Homo sapiens: one gene and its partners. The protein of the gene in region 4 purifies or fractionates together with the protein of the main gene of each other region. This does not show direct contact. Each region holds a gene or a part of one and is shown on either strand. Other genes may lie near its edges.

The links.
Region 1: the proteins of COLEC10 (region 4) and PLOD2 purify together in Homo sapiens (affinity purification with mass spectrometry; one large-scale study listed by BioGRID and IntAct). This does not show direct contact.
Region 2: the proteins of COLEC10 (region 4) and STC2 purify together in Homo sapiens (affinity purification with mass spectrometry; 2 studies listed by BioGRID and IntAct, with this or other methods). This does not show direct contact.
Region 3: the proteins of COLEC10 (region 4) and ARL8A purify together in Homo sapiens (affinity purification with mass spectrometry, with the first as the bait; one large-scale study listed by BioGRID). This does not show direct contact.
Region 5: the proteins of COLEC10 (region 4) and TIMP3 purify together in Homo sapiens (affinity purification with mass spectrometry; 2 studies listed by BioGRID and IntAct, with this or other methods). This does not show direct contact.
Region 6: the proteins of COLEC10 (region 4) and ACAD10 purify together in Homo sapiens (affinity purification with mass spectrometry; one large-scale study listed by BioGRID and IntAct). This does not show direct contact.
Region 7: the proteins of COLEC10 (region 4) and NUCB2 purify together in Homo sapiens (affinity purification with mass spectrometry; 3 studies listed by BioGRID and IntAct, with this or other methods). This does not show direct contact.

What each region holds. Positions count from the first base shown.
Region 1 is NC_000003.12:146,154,685-146,158,184, reverse strand, and holds part of PLOD2 (procollagen-lysine,2-oxoglutarate 5-dioxygenase 2 isoform 1 precursor), read left to right. Parts: intron 1-3,500. UniProt on the Homo sapiens protein: Forms hydroxylysine residues in -Xaa-Lys-Gly- sequences in collagens. These hydroxylysines serve as sites of attachment for carbohydrate units and are essential for the stability of the intermolecular collagen cross-links.
Region 2 is NC_000005.10:173,318,415-173,321,914, forward strand, and holds part of STC2 (stanniocalcin-2 precursor), read right to left. Parts: intron 1-3,500. UniProt on the Homo sapiens protein: Has an anti-hypocalcemic action on calcium and phosphate homeostasis.
Region 3 is NC_000001.11:202,134,738-202,138,237, reverse strand, and holds part of ARL8A (ADP-ribosylation factor-like protein 8A), read left to right. Parts: intron 1-199; coding exon 200-273; intron 274-2,437; coding exon 2,438-2,531; intron 2,532-2,711; coding exon 2,712-2,779; intron 2,780-3,017; coding exon 3,018-3,088; intron 3,089-3,500. UniProt on the Homo sapiens protein: Plays a role in lysosome motility. In neurons, mediates the anterograde axonal long-range transport of presynaptic lysosome-related vesicles required for presynaptic biogenesis and synaptic function. May play a role in chromosome segregation.
Region 4 is NC_000008.11:119,084,247-119,087,746, forward strand, and holds part of COLEC10 (collectin-10 isoform 1 precursor), read left to right. Parts: intron 1-3,500. UniProt on the Homo sapiens protein: Lectin that binds to various sugars: galactose > mannose = fucose > N-acetylglucosamine > N-acetylgalactosamine. Acts as a chemoattractant, probably involved in the regulation of cell migration.
Region 5 is NC_000022.11:32,850,205-32,853,704, forward strand, and holds part of TIMP3 (metalloproteinase inhibitor 3 precursor), read left to right. Parts: intron 1-3,500.
Region 6 is NC_000012.12:111,741,553-111,745,052, forward strand, and holds part of ACAD10 (acyl-CoA dehydrogenase family member 10), read left to right. Parts: intron 1-3,090; coding exon 3,091-3,491; intron 3,492-3,500.
Region 7 is NC_000011.10:17,307,739-17,311,238, forward strand, and holds part of NUCB2 (nucleobindin-2 isoform 1 preproprotein), read left to right. Parts: intron 1-1,833; coding exon 1,834-1,937; intron 1,938-3,086; coding exon 3,087-3,272; intron 3,273-3,454; coding exon 3,455-3,500. UniProt on the Homo sapiens protein: Calcium-binding protein which may have a role in calcium homeostasis. Acts as a non-receptor guanine nucleotide exchange factor which binds to and activates guanine nucleotide-binding protein (G-protein) alpha subunit GNAI3.

The DNA of each region.
Region 1 (3,500 bases), on a different chromosome or scaffold from region 4:
CTGCCCTTTCTGCCTTCTAGATGGGATAAGGAGAAGGTGGATGTATTCCTGCCAAGTCTTTGCCGTCATGTCTCCAGACCTGGATAAAATTTGTGTGTGTTTTCTGAGGCACCTTACTATTCTATGATCCAAACTGGGCAGAAACCAAGTTTTGGGCAAAAACAAAGGAAATGGTTTCAAATGTTTCTGTCAAGACCAGTATTTTTGTACCACATTCATTCATTTATAAACTCTCTAATTTACTGTGGTACATTCAAGGAAAAAAGGAAAGGTTTGTCCCTATCTACTGATGCAAACCAGCAATTTATGGGGTGGAGAGGAAAAGAGCAAGGGCCTGGAGAAACCTCTGGAAGAGAGAGGGTCTTGTCCTCTGTACTTTCTGTATTCTGTGCTTCAGCCACACAGAATGACATATCATCCATAAACAGACTGTGCCTTTTATTTCACATGACAACAGACATATAAAACTACTATAGAGAATGTGAAGACAAGAAATGAAAATTAAATTGAGCTACCCTTTTCTATCCAACACATGGGACAAAGCATCTTAAAATAAACTCTGATTGTACCAAATGTCAGGATGGGAATTGACCGTTGATGGAAGCACAGTGTCTTTGGAGAACAATTTAATAATATCTACTGGAATTGAGAATCCGCATGTCCTGTAATCCTAGATATGTGCATGAATAGCACTCTCAAATTTCTGTTCCTTCCTTTTTAGTTTTTTGAAATCCTGTTTATTGTTTAAGTCTAGCTCCTAGGAAATTCTTCTCCTGGCTATTTTTGTTTGGTTCTTTTTATTTTTAACTTCTTAATGTAGCTGGTTTATACAAATCATATTTACTTTGTACTATAGGTCCTTATGTTTAATAAATTGTAAACTCTTCAAAGTGAAGGGCTGAGTTTTATTCATTTTTATGCTCTTCAGTATCTACACTGTTGTTTTGCCACAGACATTCTCAGGTTTTGCTTACTGAGTTTCTGGCCTGTTCTGAGAATTATGAAAAGTAGCGTGCAGTCAATGAGGTTGCTAGTTTCTTCTTCCCCCAGAACTTTATCTGAATTCACTGAGCTTCCTTTCTCTGCTTGGGAACCCATATGCTACATGATTTAACAGCTTAGAAGTGAAATATCTGCTGCCTTGTTTCTGAACCATGTTTGGCAACCCTTCTCCACGGGTTGTATTTCCCGCTTTACCTGCTTTACTCAATACAAAGTGGCACCTTCACTATTACTTTCAGGTAGTTGGGTGCCATAATTTTTTTTATTGGTGGTGAAATGGAGATTTGGGATGGTTACATACCTTGCACAAGCTCACATAGGTGGAAAGCAGTAGAAGAGGGGCCTGTGCCCCTTCTTCAGGCTGTGCTTGTCTTTCCTGACCTCATAATTGTTCTCTTGGACTTTTGGGACCTATGAGAAAGAAACAGAAACTGGCCATCAGTGACTTAGAGAAACAAAAGGAAAGCTTTGCTAAAAGGGAAAAGGCATAATTTGCAGGTTATGTAAAAGGAGGAGAAAGGAGTAGGCACAGGCTGAAGGAAAACTGGGCCCTAGGCCAGAGTGGTAAATTATGGCCCATAGGCCAAATCTAGCAGACCCCAAACAGCTACCTGTGTTTGTGTGGTCTGTGAACTAACAGAGATGTTTACATTTTTAAATGGTTGAAAAATATCAAAAGGAGAATAATATATTATGAAACATGAAAATTATATGAAATTAAAGTTTTATTGGCTCTCAGCCACATTCATTTGTTTACTTATTGTCTGGCTGCTTTGGTGCTACAAGGCAGAGCTGAGTAGTAGTTACAGAGACTATGAGGCCTGCAAAGTCTGAGATATTGACTAGCTGGTCCTGTACAGAAAAACTTTGCCGAACCTTGCCTTAGGAGATGACATTCCCACTTAAGTTGTGGCTCATGCCGATCTGCTGCTCTGTGGGAAGGAGCTGGCTTCTGGACAGTAGCAGCTGGCTCTGGGCATTTCAGAGACCTGTTTTTCATTTTAGAATTTGCCGGTGATTCCTGTGGTGTTTTGCGTTCAAACATAGAGTTTCTCTGTTACATCTTTTTAAACACAGCACTTGAAGCTATCAAGACATGTTCTTTGGTGTAAGTAGTGTTCTCATGATCAAAAATGAATTAAAAACACTGATGGCTAGTTGGAAAGGAGATGCATATTTCTTCTTCAGAGCTTGAGTATATTCTAGAAATTTGTTCTAGAAACCTGGTTATGAATTTGTGGCTGAGCTCCTGGGAGGAAATAATTAGCACGTTTATCAATGAGTATTTTTATTTTTCTTTAATCATTGCTATAAATTAGGCTAAACTGAGAATTTGGTGGCTTTTAAAATGACATATTCTTTTTAATTTACATCTTACTCATTTGCATTTGTTGTAGAATGCTTGCCTCCCCAAACTGAACTGAACAGAACTAATTTTCTTTCTTTTTTCTTTTTTTTTTTTTTTTTTGAGACAGAGTCTCGTTCTGTCGCCCAGGCTGGAGTGCAGTGGCGTGATCTCGGCTCACTGCAACCTCTGCCTCCCGGGTTCAAGCAATTGTCTGCCTCAGCCTCCTGAGAAGCTGGGATTACAGGTGCCCGCCACCATGCCCAGCTAATTTTTGTATTTTTTTTTTAGTAGAGATGGGGTTTCACCATCTTGGCTAGGCTGGTCTTGAACTCCTGACCTCGTGATCCAACCCCCTCGGCTTCCCAAACTGCTGGGATTGCAGGTGTGAGCCACCGCGCCTGGCCAATGAAACTAATTTTCAAAGCTATTGAGATTGCAGTTAAAAATAGTTATCTAGAATAGTAGAATTATAGAGACTGTTATTTAATTAATTAATTAATTAATTTATTTATAGACAGGGTCTCACTCTGTAGGTCAGGCTAGAATGCAGTGACGCTATCATAGCTCACTACAGCCTGAAACTGCTGGGCTCAGATGATCCTGCTTATCACCTCAGCCTCCCAAGTAGCTGGGACTGCAACTCTGTTGTTGTTATCTTTATTCTGCTTACCACCTTAAAGCCTACATGTTGCAACCCATATTTGGTAATTACACTACTAAAGATGGTGCAGCAGTACAGAATTGATTACTGCCCGACTGTGTCACAAAGATACCTCTTCAAAAAATAGTTTATAATTTAAAAATGTAGTATCTTCAAATAAGTTTTTGTTTTCAGAGTAACTTTACAAGCAATTCAAAGAGCAAAGATACATCGTTTTTATACACAAAAGGAAGATTTTCATTACAGATTTTCTTTTGTGTATTAAAAGAGGGAAGTGTACTTTTGTTAATTTTAATTTGGTTTTCTTCAAAACAATACAATCAGGTTTATGCATTTACATACTTAGTTACTGATTGACTCATGCATTTTTTTCAGGCCTTGATTGTTTTAGTAGCACATTGTGGCAGATTTAGGAAAATAAAAATCATTTTAAAATTTCTATTAAAATATGGATATACTCCCCCTTTCTTGAATTTATTTCTTAAAGGA
Region 2 (3,500 bases), on a different chromosome or scaffold from region 4:
AGCCTTTTCTCATAGTCTATGGAGTACTGGCCTCAACCAACACTTATTGGGTGGCCACTGTGTCCCAGGCTCACAGGTGCATAGGGTAAGAGCTTAGGACCCTAAAAGGAAGACCCTCTGGGGATGGTGAGAAATCCAGGTGGCTGCGTGAATAATGGCAGGAGAGCTCTGGGTGCCTTTAGGCTACACTAACTAGGTGAGTTTCAGCTAGAGTGGAGATGGCTCTGGGGTCCAGTGGAATCATAATTAGGCAAATGGTGCAGGGCCTTACATAGACTTCCAAACAGAGGATTCTTTTTGGTAGGGAAGAGGAAACCATGAAGGTTTAGGACCACGTGCCCTCTATGAGAAGCCCCCAAGAAACCATTTTCCCCATGTTTGTGTTTGCCCCGGGTTTAGGCTTCTGATGAAGAAGGGTGTTTTTGGAAGTTATTGGATGCATTTCCTCTGCATCTGGAGGAGTATGGAAGAGCTGAAGTGGGAGGGAGGAAGACCATGTCCCTGGGACGTCATTGCCCGTGCATGCAGTGATTCCCTTTCTCAGTAGCAGAGGCTGGGGAGTAGGTGTGGCCATCTGAGCATCTTTATTCTTTCAGTCTGGGCTTCCTTAGATTTGGAGTTGAAGGCTGGCGGTCAGGGGCCCCTGTGTCTGGACTGAGAGACAGCTCACTGTGCAATGAACTCGCCTAGTTCTGGAGGGCAGAGCCAGTTCCTCAGGCCATTCCGGTTGTCTTGGGTTGTTCTGTAGGAAAACCACTGGAATAATTTACTCCAGGGGGTGGACAAGGTGTGCAGAAGGCAGGAGCATCTGCTTTTTATATTTATGGGCCCATCTGGTAAAGAGTGTCCCCAGCAATGGGCTCTCATGGGCCACTCACTGAGCTTTTATTTTAACCTCTCACTGGCCTTTAAAACCCCCCAAGGGGGGTATAGAATGTTTCACATGGCTAACCAGCATTCCTAGGCAGTCCTCGCTGGCAAAGTTTCTGATCTATCTGACCACAAGCATTGCAGCTTTGGGCCATCACCTTGAGCAGGGAAGTCACCATGGAATGTGAGGTCATTCATAACAAGGAGCAATCTGATTTGTCCTCCCTAAGTCTGGGCCACCAGAGAGGCTGCGTTACAGCCCATGGAGCCTTTTCTTTGCAAGTTGGCAGTTGTTGCTATGTGGAAAGAGCAGACTGTGTTTTGAGATGTGTGAAGTAGTTTACTGCCTTTTTATTAATTATTCCTCAAGTTGGAATTGAGTGAACTGTCCTCACCTCATGGATGCAAAAACTGAGAAAAGCAGGGAGAAGGTGGCTCTTGGAAGCTTCTGGGCTTCAGGGCCCAGGGCTTGGCTGAGAGCAGAGCAGAGAGGAGGAATGCTCTGGCTGAGAGAGATCCAGCTGCTGTTTAGGGCCTGCTTGATGACTTTGGAGTCAGCAAGTCTGTGCATGGCCGCTGGGCAAAGGGCTTTAAACCCCCTAAGGCAGGCCCCTGACAGCGCAAGACAACCTAACCCTGTCCCTTGGACTGCCCTGAGGTGGGCAGGTGGGCATGCAGGAGGCAATATGAGGGAAATGCTCCACGCGTGCTTGTTTCCTTCTATTTTTTGAAAACTAGAAACTGCCTCCGGAGCTCAAGTTCACCGAGTGTGTCTGCTAAAGCAGCAACAGGATTTTAGCACCTGACTGTGCCTGCCGCGGCACCAGGGCTAGGTGAGCACACTGCAGGGGTGAGGGTCTGTCTTTCTGAGATACTAACTGGATGCTGTCTTCAAGCTCCTTTCCCCAGAGTAAGGGGAGGGCTGTCTTGGGAATATGCAGACTGTCTTTCGCCTTCCCGGCCAGGGCGTTCTGTCTGCCAGATGAGCCCCCAGAAGCCCAGGGCGGATCTGGATCCCAGAAGGCTGGATGAGCCCATGCTGTCCTCTGCCCTTGGCCCTCTCTCTCTCCAGGAGGAAGCTGTGAACTGCGGGGAGGGGTGTGTGTGCCGAACCAAGTTAATCCAAGCCGTGTTCCGAGCTGGCCTGGTGCCTTCTGAGGCTGCAAGCTCAGCCCGTGTCTAATGACAAAGTCCAGCTCGTTCAACTGGGTGTCAGCAAGCCTAAAGGATTTTAAAAAATACTTGGAGGGGGATGTGCCTGGAGCCTGCCAGCACCCAGTGACATGGCGAGTGGGGGTAAAACCAGGCAGGCGGCAGCTAGGGGGAGACAGATGCTGTGCAGAAAGTGGGGCGGGCAGGAAGGGGTGAGGGGAGCGGAGAGGAAGAGCTTGAAAAGAGCAGCATTAACTGGGGGTGAGTGTTCTGGTGTGGATGGGGGTTGGGTTGAAGAATGGGGGTGGTGCAGATTCTGGGGTGACTGTGATTTCCTCATCTCTAAAGTGAAAAGCAAATTCAGTTCTCTCTTTTTTTTTTTTTTTGACCAATGCCACACATTTGGAAATGGGCTTCTTGATATTTGGGGACTGATAGGATACTTTAATCAGTTAAGATGGTTGGGAAAAAAAAACCTAAAAAACAGGCAGTTCAGCTAGAAGTACAAGTCGATGCACCGCCACATCATGGCTTCAGAAGGAAAGGTAATGGGGGTTTTTGGGAAGCTGGAGTTAGGGGAGACCCCTGCCTAGAGATGCTGACTTAGGGGGAAGCAAGAGGAACAGCATGTGACCAGGCTTCTTATATGGGCTGCCTGCATTTCCAGAGCAGGCTGGGGTGGGGGGTCATAGGCTCATTCTGAATGGTGTGAGGAGACCATGGCCCCGAGGGCCACATTCCCAAGAAGGAGACACTAGAACGCCAGAGAGCTTTACCTTCTTCTTAAATTAAGGGGAGGGGGTGGGACTTCCAACCTTCAGTTTTCCCAAAGAATACTTTTCTCCAAGAAAGATAGAATTCCTGTGCTCCAGGCATGCATTATAGCCTTATAAACTAGGAATGGGCCCCATTCCCCACCGATTCCTGAGGCCAGCAAACTCTCTCTAATGGGGGACAGGGCTAGAGGCGAGTGAAGCTCACGGTGTTTCCTAGCCATGGGGCATTTTTCTCTTCCAGAGGCACCTGAAGGAAGGGAATTTTAGAGTGTTCTCCTTGTGTAATGGGGATATATTTGATAAAAGGACAAGAAGCCCACCACATGTGGGGAGCTGTGAGCCCTTTCAGGTCTAGGAGGGAGATAATAGGCTGGGAGCAGGTTTGAAGTCTATTCCTGATGACTGGCTTCAGTCATGTATACCAGCAATTCCGAAGCTTAAAAGCAGGAATCAAACCTCAGTCCGAGTTCTCTAATCTCTTAGCTTCACTTTCCTCCTCTTGGGCATAGTAATTTCTATCTTGTAGCATCTTTGGGAAAGATAAATGAGATAACCCATGTAAAGGCCCTGGCCAAGGGCCTAGACCATTAGAAAAAAAATTAAAAAAACATAAAAAAAGACAGCTATCATTGTTGTTGATGATGCTGTGGCTGCTATTGTTCCCTTAAAAATATTTGAAGAATAAAAAATATTTTGTAAGGC
Region 3 (3,500 bases), on a different chromosome or scaffold from region 4:
GTCCCCCTGCTGAGGAGCTGGGAAAAGACAGTAGAAGACTTCTAAGGTAGACGGAGAGCGGGTGGAGACGGGGGAGAACTGGAGAGGAAGCCGGGGAGGCAGAGGAGAGTAGGGCAGGGTAGGAGGGGGCATTTGAGACCCAAGACACGTTTTGGTGGCCTGCCCACTACTGAGGCTATCTCACCCTCTTCTTGCTCAGCTCTGGGACATTGGGGGACAGCCGCGTTTCCGCAGCATGTGGGAGCGCTACTGCCGAGGAGTGAGCGCCATCGTGTAAGTACACGGGAGGCATCGCCAGACTCCAGCCTTACCCGGCCCCCCTAGCCCTGCTACCTTCGAGGACCTCAGAGGCGCAGGGTTTTATTAGACATAATCCTTGGTTCATGACACAGTGTCGGTCCAGGGCCTGCGTTTATTTTGCATGCCACTTGTTTCTTATTGGATAAATGCCCTGGGCACTCACTACCCAATCTAAGAAACAGACTATAGACTATTAACCAGCCAGATGCACCTGTGCATCCTCTTCATTGACTTGTCTCCCTCCCCTCAACCCAAAGTCACCACTGTCTTGAATTTTGTGTGGTTTAAATGATTCTTTTTTTTTTTTTTGAGACGGAGTTTCGCTCTTGTTGCCCAGGCTGGCGTGCAATGGTGCGATCTCGGCTCACCACAACCTCCTGCCTCCCAGGTTCAAGCGATTCTCCCACTTCAGCATCCCAAGTAGCTGGGATTACAGGCATGCGCTACCACGCCTGGCCACTTTTGTATTTTTAGTAGAGACAGGGTTTCTCCATGTTGGTTAGGCTGGTCTTGAACTCCCGACCTCAGGTGATCTGCCTGCCTCGGCCTCCCAAATTACATGCATGAGCCACCGCGCGCAGCCCTCTCTTGCTTTTTAAAAATAATGTTTTTTTTGGCTGAGCATGGTGCCACACACCTGTAATCCCAGCTACTTGGGAGGCTGAGGCAAGAGGATTGCTTGAGCCCAGGAGTTTAGGGCCAGCCTAGGCAACATAGCAAGATCCTGTCTTTAAAAAAATAAAATAAAATAAATTTTAAACATTGAAAAATGGCAGGGCATGGGCTGGGCGCGGTGGCTCACGCCTGTAATCCCAGCACTTTGGGAGGCCGAGGTGGGCGGATCACGAGGTCAGAAGATCGAGACCATCCTGGCTAACACAGTGAAACCCTGTCTCTACCAAAAATACAAAAAAAATTAGCTGGGCGTGGTGGCAGGCGCCTGTAGTCCCAGCTACTCGCGAGGCTGAGGCAGGAGAATGGCGTGAACCCAGGAGGCGGAGCTTGCAGTGAGCCGAGATCGCATCACTGCACTCCAGCCTGGGCGACAAAGCGAGACTCTGTCTCAAAAAAAAGGAAAAGAAAAGAAAAGAAAAATGGCAGGGCACAGGGGGAGGCCAAGGCAGACGGATTACTTGAGGTCAGAAGTTCAAAACCAACCTGGGTAACATGGTGCAACCCTATCTCTACAAAAGTACAAAAATTAGCTGAGCCTGGTAGCACGCACCTGTAGTCCCAGCTACTCAGACGACTGAGGTGGGAGGATCTCTTGAGTCCAGGAAGCCGAGGCTGCAGTGAGCTGTAATTGCACCACTGCACTCCACCCTGGGTGACAGTGAGACCCTGCCTCAGAAAATAATAGGCTGGATGCGGTGGCTCATGCCTGTAATCCCAGCACTTTGGGAGCCCGAGACGAGTGGATCACAAGGTCAGGAGATTGAGCCCATCCTGGCTAACATGGTGAAACCCCATCTCTGCTAAAAATACAAAAAATTAGCCGGGCGTGGCGGCATGTGCCTGTAGTCCCAGTTACTTGGGAGGTTGAGGCAGGAGAATCGCTTGAACCTGGCAGGCGGAGGTGGCAGTGAGCTGAGATTGCACCACTGCACTCCAGCCTGGCAACAGAGCGAGACTCCATCTCAAAAATGATATTAATAATAATAATAAAATTTATTCTATATATATATGCCCAAACAATAGATTGTTTAGAATACACAATAGGTTGCTTTTTAACCTGATAACAAAAAGTATCTTGCTAAAAGAAATCTTCTAAGGTTTCCTTTGCTTTTTTCACTCTAACCTTATTTAGTCTTTCCATGAAAACATAAGTGGGTCACTTTGAGAGGGACTTACAGCTAATCTCAAAGGGCCCACGCTTTTCCACATGAGTAACGGCTTCCCCAGAGTAGCACTTGGAGGCTAATGGCAGGCCTAAGGAGTCCCTGCAGCTGTTCACTCCCATAGACTCAGAAAACATCCGCGGAGCACCTGCCTTGAGCCAGGCCAGGTAGCCCATGGATCCCGAGGTGACCAAGCTGCAACAGATGCTTTCACCTCCAAGCAGCAGCTCCTTCTCTTCCTTGCACCACCTCAGCCTGTGGTGTCAACATGCTTGTCCCCACCCTGCCTCTTTCCCCAGGTACATGGTGGATGCTGCTGACCAGGAGAAGATTGAGGCCTCTAAGAACGAGCTCCACAACCTACTGGACAAACCTCAGCTGCAGGGCATCCCGGTCAGCAGACCTGAGGGAGCGGGATGGGGAGGGAGCTCGGCTGGGAAGTCACTGGGAGCAGGTAAAAGCCAGGCATGGTAGGGGCGCAGAGAGGAAACGGGACCCAGGAGGCCAGCTCACCACCCAGACAACCTGGGCACGGCTGCCCTAGACCTCATCCTCACCCTCCCTTCTCCGTAGGTCTTAGTCCTGGGTAACAAGCGAGACCTTCCGGGAGCATTGGATGAGAAGGAGCTGATTGAGAAAATGTGAGTTGGGTGACTCTATATTACTTTCTGCTCTCCCAATTCCCCAACCACCAGACCAACAGCCTAGGCTTGCTGCTGTTCTTAGTATTAGCCACACGGTGGCAGCAGAGCCGACCTTTTCAGGCACCTCACCCTCCCCTTTGTAGCCTCTTAGGTAAGAAAAAGGCCCCGCTGTCCCCTAGCCCCAGGCCCCCTGGACGTTCGTAGCCTCAGCGGACTCTACTCTGGTTTCCCCCAGGAATCTGTCTGCCATCCAGGACCGAGAGATCTGCTGCTACTCCATCTCTTGCAAAGAAAAGGACAACATTGGTGCGTAGGATGGGGGAAAGGGAGGAGAGGGGAGAGGCATTTCTGAGTGTTTTAGTGGCTCTCAGGTTCTCGCTCCACAACTTTCCCTGAAGTCCAAAGCCCTGTGGCTCTTGGGTAGAAAAGGCAGCCAGGTGGCCCAGATTCTGGGCACTATCCCAGCTTGTCGCCAAGCGGTTGTGTGATCTCGGGCAAATCGATCCCCGCTCTGGGCTTCACCTCCTCGTTTCTAAGATTCCAGGGCTGGACCCGGTGATTCTCAGGTCCCTGCTGGCTCTGACATGCTGTGGCTCTGTCTCTTTCCCAGCACCTGAATTCCGCTACTACTCATTCAGGGCCATGTGGCGCTTGCCAGCTCTGGACTTCTTGTTTGTTTTTGAGAAAGTGTCTCGCTCTGTCACCCAGGCTGGAGTTC
Region 4 (3,500 bases):
TCATAGCTAAGTTCACAGAGCTGATAAGCAATGTGATTAAGATTTGACGCCTGAATATGCAAGGTCAGGACCCTCCCCTGGGCTTCATCAATACGTCATCCCACCTTTCCAGGAATTACTCCCTTCTGTGAATCACCAGTGGAAATTTTTCTTCTTCCAACCACTCTGTCCAAGTCAGTTTCTTGATCTATCAGTTCTTTCAGAAGAGAAAATGGAATTATTTGTCATGATTTGTTTTCAAAGGACTTAGGCTTACTCCTCTGAATGTCTACTTCTCTTCTAACTACTCATTTCTTCCTTGTATGAGATTGTATATAGCACAGCAGTGTGGGCTTGAGATGAACAAGATCACAGAACTCTATCAAGGTGACTTTTTCAAATGCCTACAGCCCTTTAAAAAGCAAGATTGATATAATGATAATATGTTTATATAGGAGTTTGTTCTTACCCTTTAAAAACACTTACTGAAGTACTTAAGGGAGATATGTTCATGTCTATAATTTACTTTTTTAAAAAATATAGCAAAAATAAATACATGAAGCAATGACAATGTGCTAATTGGTAAATCTCAGTAATGGGTTTTTATCTTTAATTATGTGAAAAGTTTTACAATAAAGGGTAAAAAAAACACAGCCAAGTAAAAGAGTAAGTAATGATTATATAATAGAGATTGAGGTAGTGAATACTAAGAAATAATCACTTATCTACTTCTATTCTCATTAAAGCAGACACTGATGAGTTTACCAAATGAGACAGGCATGGTGTTGAACACTTTTCATCCACTGTCTCCATTAATCCACAGCAATCCTATGAGGTTGGGATTATTCTCTCCATTTTGGATGAGAAAACTGAGATTGGAAGAAATGAAATGGCTTGTTTCAGAGTACTCTTAACCAAGGCAGTGCACTCTCTTTGCCTTAGGGAAAGCTGTGCAGAAGTGGCTGACTTGAAAGAATTCAGGATAGCCAGGAGTAGGCAGGTTGGGTAGGTGAAGGCACCAAGGGAATGATAAAATGGATGAATGGGGAGAAGGCTAACAATAGCAGGTCCCAATGAGGCCTGAAGATTTCAGTGAAGTGATGAGGTTGAGGTTGGGGAAGTAAAAGTACTAGGGAGTGGTTTGTTTTATGACTCTACTGGTACATGTCATGTATGTAAGAGGTATGGGGCATAATTGATGACTACTGAAATTTCCAAGAATGAGGATGCAATTGGCATAGATGGGAAGAAGATGTAAGTAGGAGTGGGAAGGATATATTTTAGGCAGGAGTTCTTGCCTTGTTAAGAAATCACAACATACCAGCTATCCCATTCAATTCTTTATTTTTTCTTTCTTCTTCTTTCTTCTTCTTCTTTTTTTTTTTTTTTTTTTTTTTGTTGTTGTTGTTGTTGTTGCTGTTGAGATGCAGTCTCGCTCTATCACCAGGCTGGGGTGCAGTGGCACAAACTGCAACCTCTGCCTCCCGAGTTCAAGCGATCTCCTGCCTCAGCCTCCTGAGTAACTGGGATTACAGGCACCTGCCACCAGGCCCAGCTAATTTTTGTATTCTTAGTAGAGACAGGGTTTCACCATGTTGGTCAGGCTGGTCTTGAACTCCTGACTTCAAACAATCCACCCGCCTCGGCCTCCCAAAGTGCTGAGATTACAGGCGTCATCCACCATGCCCAGTCTATCCCATTCAATTCTAAGGCTGATCAGGAGAAAGGTTACTAACAACAACTCCCCAGTCTATAAGATTGTTTTGACAAAGGGAAAAGGATTTTAATTAATTAATTTTAGCATCTCCAAAATAATTCACTACTTTTTAATAAGTATTTCCTTTGAGTAAAGGGTACTGGCCTGGATTCCAACTAGAATTCAATTTTAAAAGACATTTTGCTAATTGGGCAGGGGGAAAAGTCCTATCTAAGAAAATGCGGTCAAATGTGTGCTGTGTTGGAATTCTGCTGGTGGCTTGGGGAGTGGGTGTGAGCAAAGCAAATAATTTTTGTAAAATTGAAATTAGCTTATTTCAGTTTATAGCTTTTCACTTAATTTTCAAATACAAGTGGCTATTTCTAAATGAAGTAAAATAGTGTAAATTGTCCTACTCATCCAGTAAATACAAAAACAAACAACTGTGAGCCAGGTCGGCGGGGAGGTGGGGGGGGTCCCTATCCAAAGCTTGCTTTTACATCTCCCTTCAGTTCTCATTAAAGTAAGTACCAAAGATCAAACAAACCCAGGACCCATGCTGAAGGCTAGGGCTCAAGTTGTTTACTTCATCTGTGCCAGAAGCCTGCTTGGCCACCAGGCTGGGATGCAGTCACATGGGTTGAAGGATAATAAATAATCCTATTTCACCCTCCCAGATCTCCATCAAGAGCCACCAGGGAGCAGTAGATCACTAAGTCACTCACCCGGCTGCCTCTGGTTAGACATTTGCTTGAAAACAAATGGGAAAGCTTATAGAAGGGGAAGAAGGAAGGAGAAAGAATAATGGCACCAATAATTCACATCTGTGTGGCATTTTGATTCTCAAAGGGCTTCACATATATGCTTGTTTTTATCTTGCCTTTTCATGAGCAGGACGCGCATCATTAGTCTCATTGTACAGAAGAGGAATCCAAGACCCAGAAATGCTAAGGCAGGAATTTGTTCTAAATCATCCAGCTTGTTCAGAACATGGGCTAGGAGGACAAATGCCCCTGTTTGAATCCTGGCTTTACCACTTATGAGTTATGTGACCTTGGATGTTACTTAACCTCTCTGTGACCCCATTTCCTTTTCTGTAAAATGGAGCAAAGGATAGTATCCATCTCAAAGCTTGCTGTGGGGATCAAATGATAGATTGTATGTCAAGTGCTAAGAACATTTTTGGCACAAACTATTTGATAAATACTGCTATTATATTTGTAGAATGTCTTATGGTTCACACAAAGTGTATTCAGTTCAACTACATTTATTAAACACCAGAGCCAGGCACTGTGCTAAATTCTGGAGATGCTAGAAAAAATCACTTATGATCCCACCATGCTTTGGGTCACAGGGAAATGTAAGAGATAAGTGGAAATACACCGACACATTTGGTATAAAGTGTTATTTTTAAGCAACAAAGGTAATTAGAGGGAGAATTTAGCCCAGTCTGGGAGTATTAGAAAGGACTCCCTGAAGGAAAATACTTTTCTAGCTTTACCTTTGCTAAACACCCTCTGGAAAAAAAGTGTAATTTTTGTCTATTCTATGAATGCATGGAAAAAAGCTCAGATAAGTTAAAGGACTTCCCAAAGTCCCTCAGTGAATGGCAAAGTGGTGTCTCAGTTATGCTACCCCATCCCAAGGATACATTTCCTGTGAATAAAGTCATTAAGTAATAAGCTGTTTTTTTTCTTTTCTCCCACTATCTTTCTTGCCTAAAAGGAAACAAAAACTATATTTCTTTCTGCAACCCCCCTTTTTGCCCTGAAAAATTTGGCACGGTGCCAAATTCTGTAAAATCCACCATCTGCTAAGAGTCACA
Region 5 (3,500 bases), on a different chromosome or scaffold from region 4:
AGAACACCAGATTTGAAATCTAGAGAACCTGCCTCCTAGTCTCACCTCTACTCCTAAATAGCCTGCTTACCTTGGGCTTGTCCCTTTTCCTGGGCCGCAGTTTTGCCACCTGTTAACAGTGTGGGGTTGGGCTTGGTGCTCCTAACATCCTCTCTAGCTCAGGCATTCTAAGCACCCTGGGATGCGGGCCATGTTACTTGTAAGGAGGAGCGGGTGGTATACAATGGAAGGGTGTACTGGTGATTGCCTTAGCACAGAAGACTGGGGCTTCACCTTGAATAACTCAGCAACTGGTTCATCACCCCATCTTTGTAAGCACCTCTCTACATGCAGAGCTCCCAGCTAGGAGCCAGGGAGGCCGTGAGGGAGATACAGTTTCCATCTTTAGGAACTAGAGTCAGGTTGGGAGAGAAGAGGCAGGTATGTGTGTGACTCATCAGAAGTTCAATGTGGGGTGTGCTGAGGTCCACAGGAACTGTCCAGCCCTTTAACTTATTGCTCATATTTGCATCCCTAGCAATTAGGGTAGGACCTGGCATGCAAAAGTGACTTGGTGAATGCTTATCTGTCTAATACGGGCATGAGGGTGAGACCCCACAGGCCTGGAAACTCCCCAGAGGAGACAAGCCGCAATGTCCAGGTAGAAGGGAGTGGAGGAGTGACGCAGCCCACGGTGGTACCCAACCATCCCCAAGGCCAACCTCCAGGCTTTCTTATTCCTGTGTCCTGAGGCTGGATGTACTAATTTTGTGGAACCTGTTGCTTTGGATTCAATTTTGCAAACATCCACAGCCTTCTGGTTATGTAATGTCCAGAGTCAGCCCTGGCCAGTTGCCCTTGGCTGCCTAAGCTTGGTCATGAGACCAGCTTATGTCTTCAGACAGCCCTGGGGAGAGAAAAATGGGCAGGGGTGGGGAACCAGCAAGAGCAACAACAACGCAAAAAGCCCACTTTGCAACCTCTGGCAGACAGCGCGGGAATGCCAAAGCATATTAGACCAAAGCAGAGGTTCAGAAAACACACGAACCTGCCTGGTCTGGAACAATCCTCATTACGAGACACTCGGTGGTCAGCAGAGAGCTGAGAGGGAAATAGCTGGGAGGCAGCAGTTCCTAAGCCTGCCTGGTTTCCTTCCTACCATCAGGGCCTGGAGACCAGGGTGACCAGAGGCCCTTCCTGTGGACATAATGTCCCATTCCCCCTTGCTGGTGTCAGACCAGCCACGGGTGGTTGTTTAGAGACCAAACAACACTTGCTAGCCTATCAGCATCAGACACTCCCACTCCCAGGCTGGTGGGCTTAGAAGACACACTCCCACTCCCAGACTGGTGGGCTTAGGCTTTCGGTTCACCATCCTTCGCCTGAGCTCATGAATCATGGTGCTGGGAATTAGATGTAGGATCCCTCGTCTTACTTCTGACAGAGGCGCAAAGGGGAAATGACTTACTCAGAGTCAAGCATTTAACTAAGGGCAGATCTGATCCCCAAGCTGAGGCATCGGAATTTCTTCCCAATCCTGTGTTCTTTATATGACTCCCAAATCTCCCTGCCATCTTAATCATCAGTCACCATCTCATGCCTTTCATTCACTCTGACCCTCCATAGAGGGTATCATGATCCATAGAACTGGTCAGTGCCCTTCTATCCAGAGACACCACTGGAATCTGCTTGTCTCTAGGTACCAGCCTGCAAGTCAGACAAGATACAGGCTAGAAGTAATAGTCCGTCCATCCATCCTCTCGTGCTTCCTTCCCACCCTCTCTCTGTGCTTAGTACTGTACTATGAACTGGGGATACAAAGATAACACTGCTTATAATTATGATAAGACTTGGCATCAGTTAACATTTACTGAGCAATTGCTTAGTGCCAGGCATTCTGCTAGGTCTTTGCATAGATCAGTACTTATACTAACACTGTAAAATAGATAACACCTTGTCCTCTGTTTGACAGGTGAGGCAACTGAGACCTGGGAGGTCATATAACTGTTAAGATTATATGGCCACAAAGTGGCAAACCTGAGCAAAACTACAGGGTCTTTGCCTATAAGGAGATAATACAGTATGGAGCAGCAGGCTGATTCATCATTCCTACCCACTTTGGGGTATATAAATGCCCACTCCATATGTTTTTAGTTCCCAGGGAACAAAAAGAGGTCAGTTTGGGTTTGTTGGTTTATCATCCAGCAGTGTAGGGCTGGACTTGTAATATCCTGCAAAGGGTGTATCAGAAAAATCTTTGTAGGAGGGAAGAGAGAGAGGCCAGAGAGGCAAGCCTGCATGAGTTTTGGCACTGGTCCCTGGGAGACTTTGTTCTAGCAGATTAGACAGTCTACCCTAGAGAGTCAGAAGGGGTGAGCAAGGGCTTCCTTAGAGCAGGACTAAAGGAACTTGGAGAACCTGAGACTCCGAGCCGCCCTGTCTGACCTCTCTCTTCTCTCACTGATGGAAGGCAGGCAGACCTTCTCCCGTCTGCTAACTCTGGAGCCTCTGACCCATCTCTCAGGAACACTTCAGTACACAGAGACCTGCGATATGTGTGTGTGTGTGAGGGAGCAGGGTGTTAGAATGTTGAGAGAGCTTATTGCAATCCCAAACTTGGAAATTAGCTGGGCTGTGGGGTGAAGGTGAAAGTTTCCAGAACTGGCTGCTCTAAGCTGTGGGGACCTTATCTCCCATCAGGACCATGAGAAACCGATCCACTGTGCCAGGAGTTATTGTTTATGTAGCGGAGACATGCTCTCCAGCTGGCTGCAGGGGACAGAACGTGGGGGACATTATGTCCCAGCTGGTCCTGGGAGGGTCCCATGGGGAGACCCGCTGGTCATGTGCTTTGCATGTCCTGACTGTAGGCAGAGCAGACCTCCAGGGACTTCCTTCCTTTAGTGGTTTGTCTAACCAAATGAGCAATAGCAGGGTCTCGCCTTTGAAGCTCTAGCTGGAAGCATCTTTGACCCCCAGCCCACAGGGAACCATTCTTCTTGCAATGCCCGTGGTTCTTCCTGCCTTAGGACTCTCATCCAGCCCTCTGCAGAGACTGGCTCCATTTCTACATTCTCTGCCTGTCCTGCTAGACAAATTGCTGTATAGAGAAAGATCATGGCCGTGATAGCTCGGTCGGTCTGTAAATAAGAATTTGTGGGTTTAAATGAGTCCGTGATGTACACCAGCATCCAGAACAGTGTTGATCTTTGGTAGGCATGCAAGACATAGTTGGAATCATTGAGGCAACTCATGCTGTCAATGTAGAGTGAAGGCCAGACATTTCATAAGAAATATGCAAATGTCCCCAGACTCAGAAACTTCTTTTTTACTTTATTTGTCCCTTCACTCCAAGGGAAGCTAACATCTTGGAACTTTGTGTAGATGCTACCAAGAAGAAGAAGAGGGGCCCAGAGGCATGCAGAACCCAGCTGAAAAAGAACAACCCACTTATGTCTGAAGTTCTAAACCAGCTTTAACTACTCTTGTTAAGAGCTGAGGAAGGGACTTAGGAGAAAGGG
Region 6 (3,500 bases), on a different chromosome or scaffold from region 4:
GACAGAAAAATGTCTGTTTGTTCAGGCCTTTATTCCTCTTATCTTACTGTGCACTCCTTTCCCTCCCTCTGGGAAGCCAGCCAGACACACTGAGGAAATGGCTTAGTTTTCTCATGTAAAAACAACAAAATCCATTTTTTGAAAGAATAATATAAAAACGTATGATGAATGGGGAAAAAACCAACTATACAAACATAAATATTACTTCTGTACATTTGTCTTCTACAATTAGCTTTAAAATCATTTTTGTTTGAACAGCTGAGATATTTGGTACTGGCCAGGAAAACTGGAGCTTAGAGAAGGGGTATCTGTTTCCAAGACATTCTCTCTATGGTGTCATTTACAAAAGACTTCAAATCAGCATTAGATTGGGAAGGGGATGAGAGAGACCAGAGCCCAGTGAGCAGAAGATTAACAGTATGTACCTGCCCAGCCCATGTGTCCTTCTCCTTCCTTAATAAGTGGGTGCAGAAATTAGATTTCTGGTAGATGGCCACTGAAATTCTATAAAGTGCTTATGACTGCAAGTTAAGTGGACACCAGTGATGTGGTCTCTTCTGCTGGAACTACATTTTGGAAAATATACCAGAAGCAATAGATCTAAATCAATCCAAGCTTATACAAGTGACTTTTTTCAGGGACAAAGTAGCAGTCTCAGAGTGGGAGCCAACCAAATAGAAGAAAATTAAGAATACACCTCTTACTCTGTTAGAAGAAGAAAATCCTTATGAATAATAAGGAACATAAGGGAGTATCTTTCCCTTCAATGTGCTGTGTGCAGTCCGAGGAATAAGGAATAAGCCCCCACTGTGTGTCTGCAAGGAAGAGGCTATCTGGTTTCTGACTGACTTCCCTGGGTTAGGTTCATACCTAGCACCCAGAAGGTCCTCAGTAGAGACCTATTGAGGTCCAGTAGGCTAACTCTCTGCAGGGTAGCAAAGAATTTGCTCTGAGTTTGTTCCTAACTCTGTAAGGAATAGTTTAAACTATCTTTAACACCAAAGCTGCATGAAAATGGCTGTCTCAGCTGGGCATGGTGGCTCATGCCTGTAATCCCAGCAGTTTGGTAGACTGAGACAGGAGGATTGTTTGAGGCCAGAAGTTCGAGACCAGTTTGGGCAACGTAGTAAGGCCCCATCTCTTATTTAAAAATAAATAAAATATTTATTTTTTTGAGACGGAATTTTGCTCTTGTCACCCAGGCTGGAGTGCAATGGCATGATCTCGGCCCACGGCAACCTCCACCTCCTGGGTTCAAGCGATTCTCCTGCCTCAGCCTCCCCGGTAGCTAAGATTACAGGCGTGCATCACCACACCTGGCTAAATTTTGTACTTTTAGTAGAGACAGGGTTTCACCATGTTGCCCAGGCTGGTCTCGAACTGACCTCCAGTAATCCACCCACCTCAGCCTCCCAAAGTGCTGGGGTTACAGGCGTGAGCCAAAGCACCCAGCCTAAAATGAAATCATTTAAAAAAAGAAAATGGCTGTCTCTTTAGAACTATCAATTTATCCATTTATTGGGTACAGTCTCTTGGGGACATGGAAGTGCTAGAAGTAATCCAGGAGAGCTGGCTGTGAAAAAGTTCACTGTGAGGAGACATTGTACACATAGCAATCTGGATGTGTCTCAGATGCAGGGCTCAGAGTGATGGAGGCCATACTGAAAAGGCCACATGCTGAGTGACATATGTATTTATGGGACATCCTGGAAGAGACAGACTACAGAAACAGAGATCAGTGGGTGCTGGGGATCAGGGGGGCAGGGGTTGAGTACAAAAGTACACTGGGGAAATTTCCAGATGATGGAAATATTCTGTTTTTTTTTTTTTTTTTGAAATGGAGTCTCGCTCTGTTGCCCAGGCAACCTCCGCCTCTCGGGTTCAAGTGATTCTCCTACCTCAGGCTCCCAAGTAGCTGGGACTACAGGCATGTGCCACCATGCCTGGCTAATTTTTGTATTTTTAGTAGAGACAGGTTTCACCATGTTGACCAGGCTGGTCTCAAACTCCTGACCTCCGGTGATCCACCCGCCTCAGCCTCCAAAGTGCTGAGATTACAGGTGTGAGCCATTGCGCCTGGCCGAAGTATTCTGTATCTTGATGGCAATGGTAGTTACCCAACTATGGATTTGTTAAGACTTGCAGAGTTCTACATTAAGGAGGTGTATGTACACCACTCCTCAATTTTTTTATTTTTATTTATTTATTTTTTTGAGATGGGTGCCTCACTCTCTCCCAGGCTGGAGTGCAATGGCACGATCTCGGCTCACTGCAACCTCTGCCTCCCAGGTTCAAGCGATTCTCATGCCTTAGCCTCCTGAGTAGCTGAGATTACAGGCACACACCACCATGCCTGGCTAATTTTTGTATTTTTAGTAGAGATGGGGGTTTCTCCATGTTGGCCAGCCTGGTCTTGAACTCCCGACCTCAAGTGATCCGCCCACCTCAGCCTCCCAAAGTGCTGAGATTACAGGTGTGAGCCACCGCACCTGGCCACCTTAATTTTTTTTAATGGGGAAAAATATGTTTGTAAAAAAAGTCTTGATGCACATTTTACAAGAAGAAAGAGACGCTGTGAGAGCCAAATAGTGAGCTGAGTGATGCTGGTGTTGATTCCCTCCAGAGACAGTGGTGTCTAGAAGTTGGCTCTTCCTTTAGTCAGTTGTGGCATTGCTGTTATCAATTTTGTAGCAAGGGTGGTCTAGGATGCAGGACTTCTTATAGCCCACTGGCAACGGCAGAGGTGATCTGGGGTGTTACTGATTAAATGTAGTCTTTTAGGAAAGCAGAGATCAAGAGCAGGGAGCAGGCAGACCTAAGTTGGACTCTGGCCCCCAGCCCCCTAACTTCCAGCTCGTCCAAGTCACCTCCTTCTCTAAGACTCAGTTTTCTTGCGTGCAAAGTGCAGGTGAAAGCAGTTGTATTGCTTTGGGGATTCAGTGAGCTATAGTGGCTCTTAGCACAGTGTTTGGTACTTAGCAAGTGCTCAGCAAATGGCAATAGCTGCTGAAGTGACAGTGTCATCACATGTTAACATCCCTATGATGGGTCGTGTGGGAGTAATCACTGTTTTTCTTTGATTCTGCTTAGGGCAAGCAAGCTCCACATATGCGGAACAAACTGGAAAGCTGACCGAATTTGTGTCTAACCTGGCGTGGGATTTCGCAGTCAAAGAAGGGTTCCGGGTTTTCAAAGAGATGCCCTTCACAAATCCGTTAACAAGGTCCTACCACACGTGGGCCAGGCCCCAGTCCCAGTGGTGCCCCACAGGCAGCAGGAGTTATAGCTCCGTTCCAGAAGCTTCCCCAGCTCATACCTCAAGGGGAGGTCTGGTTATCTCTCCAGAGAGCCTCTCTCCACCTGTCAGAGAGCTGTATCACCGGCTGAAGCACTTCATGGAGCAACGTGTGTACCCTGCAGAGCCAGAGCTGCAGAGTCACCAGGCCTCAGCAGCCAGGTGGAGCCCCTCCCCACTGATCGAAGACCTCAAGGTAAAGCAG
Region 7 (3,500 bases), on a different chromosome or scaffold from region 4:
ACTGTGTATCCCTGTAAGATTATCTTTAGGATAATTTCCCCACAGTGGAATTGCCAAATCAAATTATATATATATATTTGTAATTTTGATAGATATTGCCACATTTGCCTCCATAGAGGTTGTATCAATACACATACCCGCCAGCAATAATTCCTCACAGGCTTACTAATGGCATGTGTCATCAAACTTTAGGAGTTTTCCATTCTGTTAGATAGTATAGCAGTGCAGTTTTAATATGTATTTCTCTTATTTTGAGTGAGGTTAAGGGTCTTTTTATATATTTCACTGTCTGGTCATTTTTTTTAGGGCTAAGTCTTAAAACAAGTATTTTCTTCATAAATAGAACTGCTAGTACAGTGCCATACTTAGAATTCAGTGAAAACTTGGTTGAACCAGATTTAGCAGTTCTTCACTTTCTGGCATAACAATATGTTCCAGGATCAACTTGTACCTACCTTGCCCCAGCTCTGGAATGAGCCATTTCTCTGAGGAGCACTGGTTTTTCTTAAGGGGCAACTATATTTTAGATCAAGAGCTGGCACTAGGTACGCTCCTTGCTACTGGAGTGTATTTTCTTGGCACCTTAATTGCATGGAGCTAGGAAATATGCATGTCTATACACATAGACACATATATAAACACATACATATTCATATACATGTGAAACATGCATATACATGTTAAATGTACATATTTTAGAAATGCTGAGTTCACACAGATAGTGCTAATTCCCATTCATCTCTAGCAATTTCTTTCTTGCCTTTCACCCTTCCATATTTGTATATTCCTTCTTCCTAAATGAGAGCTGATTTCCAACAACTTCAACAATGTACCCATTTTGCTCAATTCTAGAAGGGCTCGTATTGCGTTGTTTCTGGTGAGCTGTCTTGTATGTATATCCACTGTGTATCCATTACATGTGTCCACTATGTAATACAACTGAAACAATCCAGCATCACTTCACCCATTTCACTATAGTAAATTGTAACTTGTTTTTTAAACGTTAAAAAAATTGATATTTCCTTAAAAATACTTCATAATTAAAAGGAAATTTACCTAAATTAGATTTTTATTGTTTCATAAGTGATCCATTGGAGCAATATACAAGGAATTCTTTCATGTAAGCTTTAGAGCAATTATTTTTAGAAATTCTACTTAAACCTTTGATAAGGATACTATATTAGAGATTTATTAAAAGCAGGATATTTAGTAGTTTTAAGATAATTAAAAAGGGTTTGTTATTGTGCTGATAGTCAACTAGTTATTTAAGATATAACATTAAAATATGCATAAGGCCAGGCATGGTGGCTCATGCCTGTAACCCCAGCACTTTGAGAGGCTGAGTTGGGAGGATCACTTGAGGCCAGAAATTCAAGACCAGCCTGGGCAATATAGTGAGACCCTGTCTCTACCAAAAATTAAAAAAAAAGAAATTAGCCAGGCGTAGTGGTGCACACCTGTTGTCCTAGCTACTTAGGAAGCTGAGGTGGGAGGATTGCTTGAGCCCAGGAGGTCAAGGATGCAGTGATCCATGATTGCACCATTGCTCTCCAGCTTGGGTGACAGAGCAGGACCATGTCTCAAAAAAAAAATGAGAGAGAATTTTTAAAAATATACATGTTAAATTGCATTCCACTCTAGGTTCAAGGACACTACCTTTAACTAGAATAACATACGCAGTATTCATAAAGTAAATATAAGCCTTTATTCTAAAACTTTGGATTTCCTTATAAAATCCTATAGGAATAAATATGAAATCTTTTTCTTGTGTATAATTATTATGTTTCTAGCTTCTAGAAATTGATCATTTACAGTTTTCTTATTTTCTTTCAGATATAGGCATGGACCACCAAGCTCTTCTAAAACAATTTGATCACCTAAACCACCTGAATCCTGACAAGTTTGAATCCACAGATTTAGATATGCTAATCAAAGCGGTGAGAATAATTCCAAAAAGTTTTGTCTTTATTGTGCCTTTGAGGTTTTGTAATTTGACAAGTAAACCCAATGAAATGGAAATATAACTTTTATATATTCTGTAGAAGTTCTTTAAAGGAAGGTAGCTTAACCCTTATTAATACAGATATTAATATGTACATACAGGTCTAAAATCCCTTATCCACAATTCCTAAATCCAAAAGCTGTAAAAACTGAAACCTGGCCTGAATGAACCAATTATAGTAAAACCATTTACAGTTTTTATTTAACCTACTTAGTGTGAATATTTATAGATTTTGCTTAAGAAATACTAGTCTGTTTGATTACAGATGCTACAGGGATATTCCATAATATGGCATATGTACCATATTCCCTTTCTTTAAGGTAGAAAATTCTGAGCACATCTGGCCTCAGAGATTCCAGATAAGAGTTTGTGGACCTCTCACATTATGTGTGAATGGAACTAGTTCTAACCTGGCAGGTATTAGATTAGTTAAATGGTTAGAAGCCATTTTAGTTTTCTGTACTGTCTAGATTTGATAATAGTTCCTTTCTTCTTCTTTTTTTTTTTTAAATCAACTTACATATTACTTGCTTATGAGGAGTTTCCTAAAGTTGGGGCTAGCTTTGAACTTTTAGTTTCTTTGAATACTCTCTGGTAATAATGATGACTAAAATTGCTGGGCATGGTGGCTCATGCCTGTAATCCCAGCACTTTGGGAGGCCAAGGAGGGTGGATCACCCAAGGTCAGCAGTTCAAGACCAGCCTGGCCAACATGGTGAAACCCTGTCTGTACTTAAAATACAAATATTAGCCGGGAGTGGTGGTGAGCGCCTGTAATCCCAGCTACTCGAGAGGCCTCAGGAGGCTGAGGTGGGATAATCGCTTGAACCAAGAGGTGGAGGTGGCAGTGAGCCGAAATCGTGCCACTGCACTCCAGCCTGGGTGACGGGTGAAACTCCGTCTCAAAAAAAAAGAAGAAAAAACTTGACTAAAATGAAATGGTAGAATTTAAAAAGAGGAGTCCAGTATGTTTTTGCCCTCCCGTACCACTTCTGTTCAAGAGTATGCTATATTCAAGAATGGCTTTATTTACATTTTTCAAGTGAATGTTTTTATTTAACTTAAATGCATTATTGCATTTCAGGCAACAAGTGATCTGGAACACTATGACAAGACTCGTCATGAAGAATTTAAAAAATATGAAATGATGAAGGAACATGAAAGGAGAGAATATTTAAAAACATTGAATGAAGAAAAGAGAAAAGAAGAAGAGTCTAAATTTGAAGAAATGAAGAAAAAGCATGAAAATCACCCTAAAGTTAATCACCCAGTAAGGATTGTGACTTTATGAAACCATTTTTAGATAAAGATACTTCTTCGTATCAGCGGATTTTTATTGTGTTATTAGTACTTAAATCTTGATTCTTCTGCCAAGTTCCTCAAATTTATATTTTGAGTCTGTACAGATAGATTATATTTTGTTTTGAGCAATTTTTTAAAATTGGTTCACAGGGAAGCAAAGATCAACTAAAAGAGGTATGGGAAGAGACTGATGGAT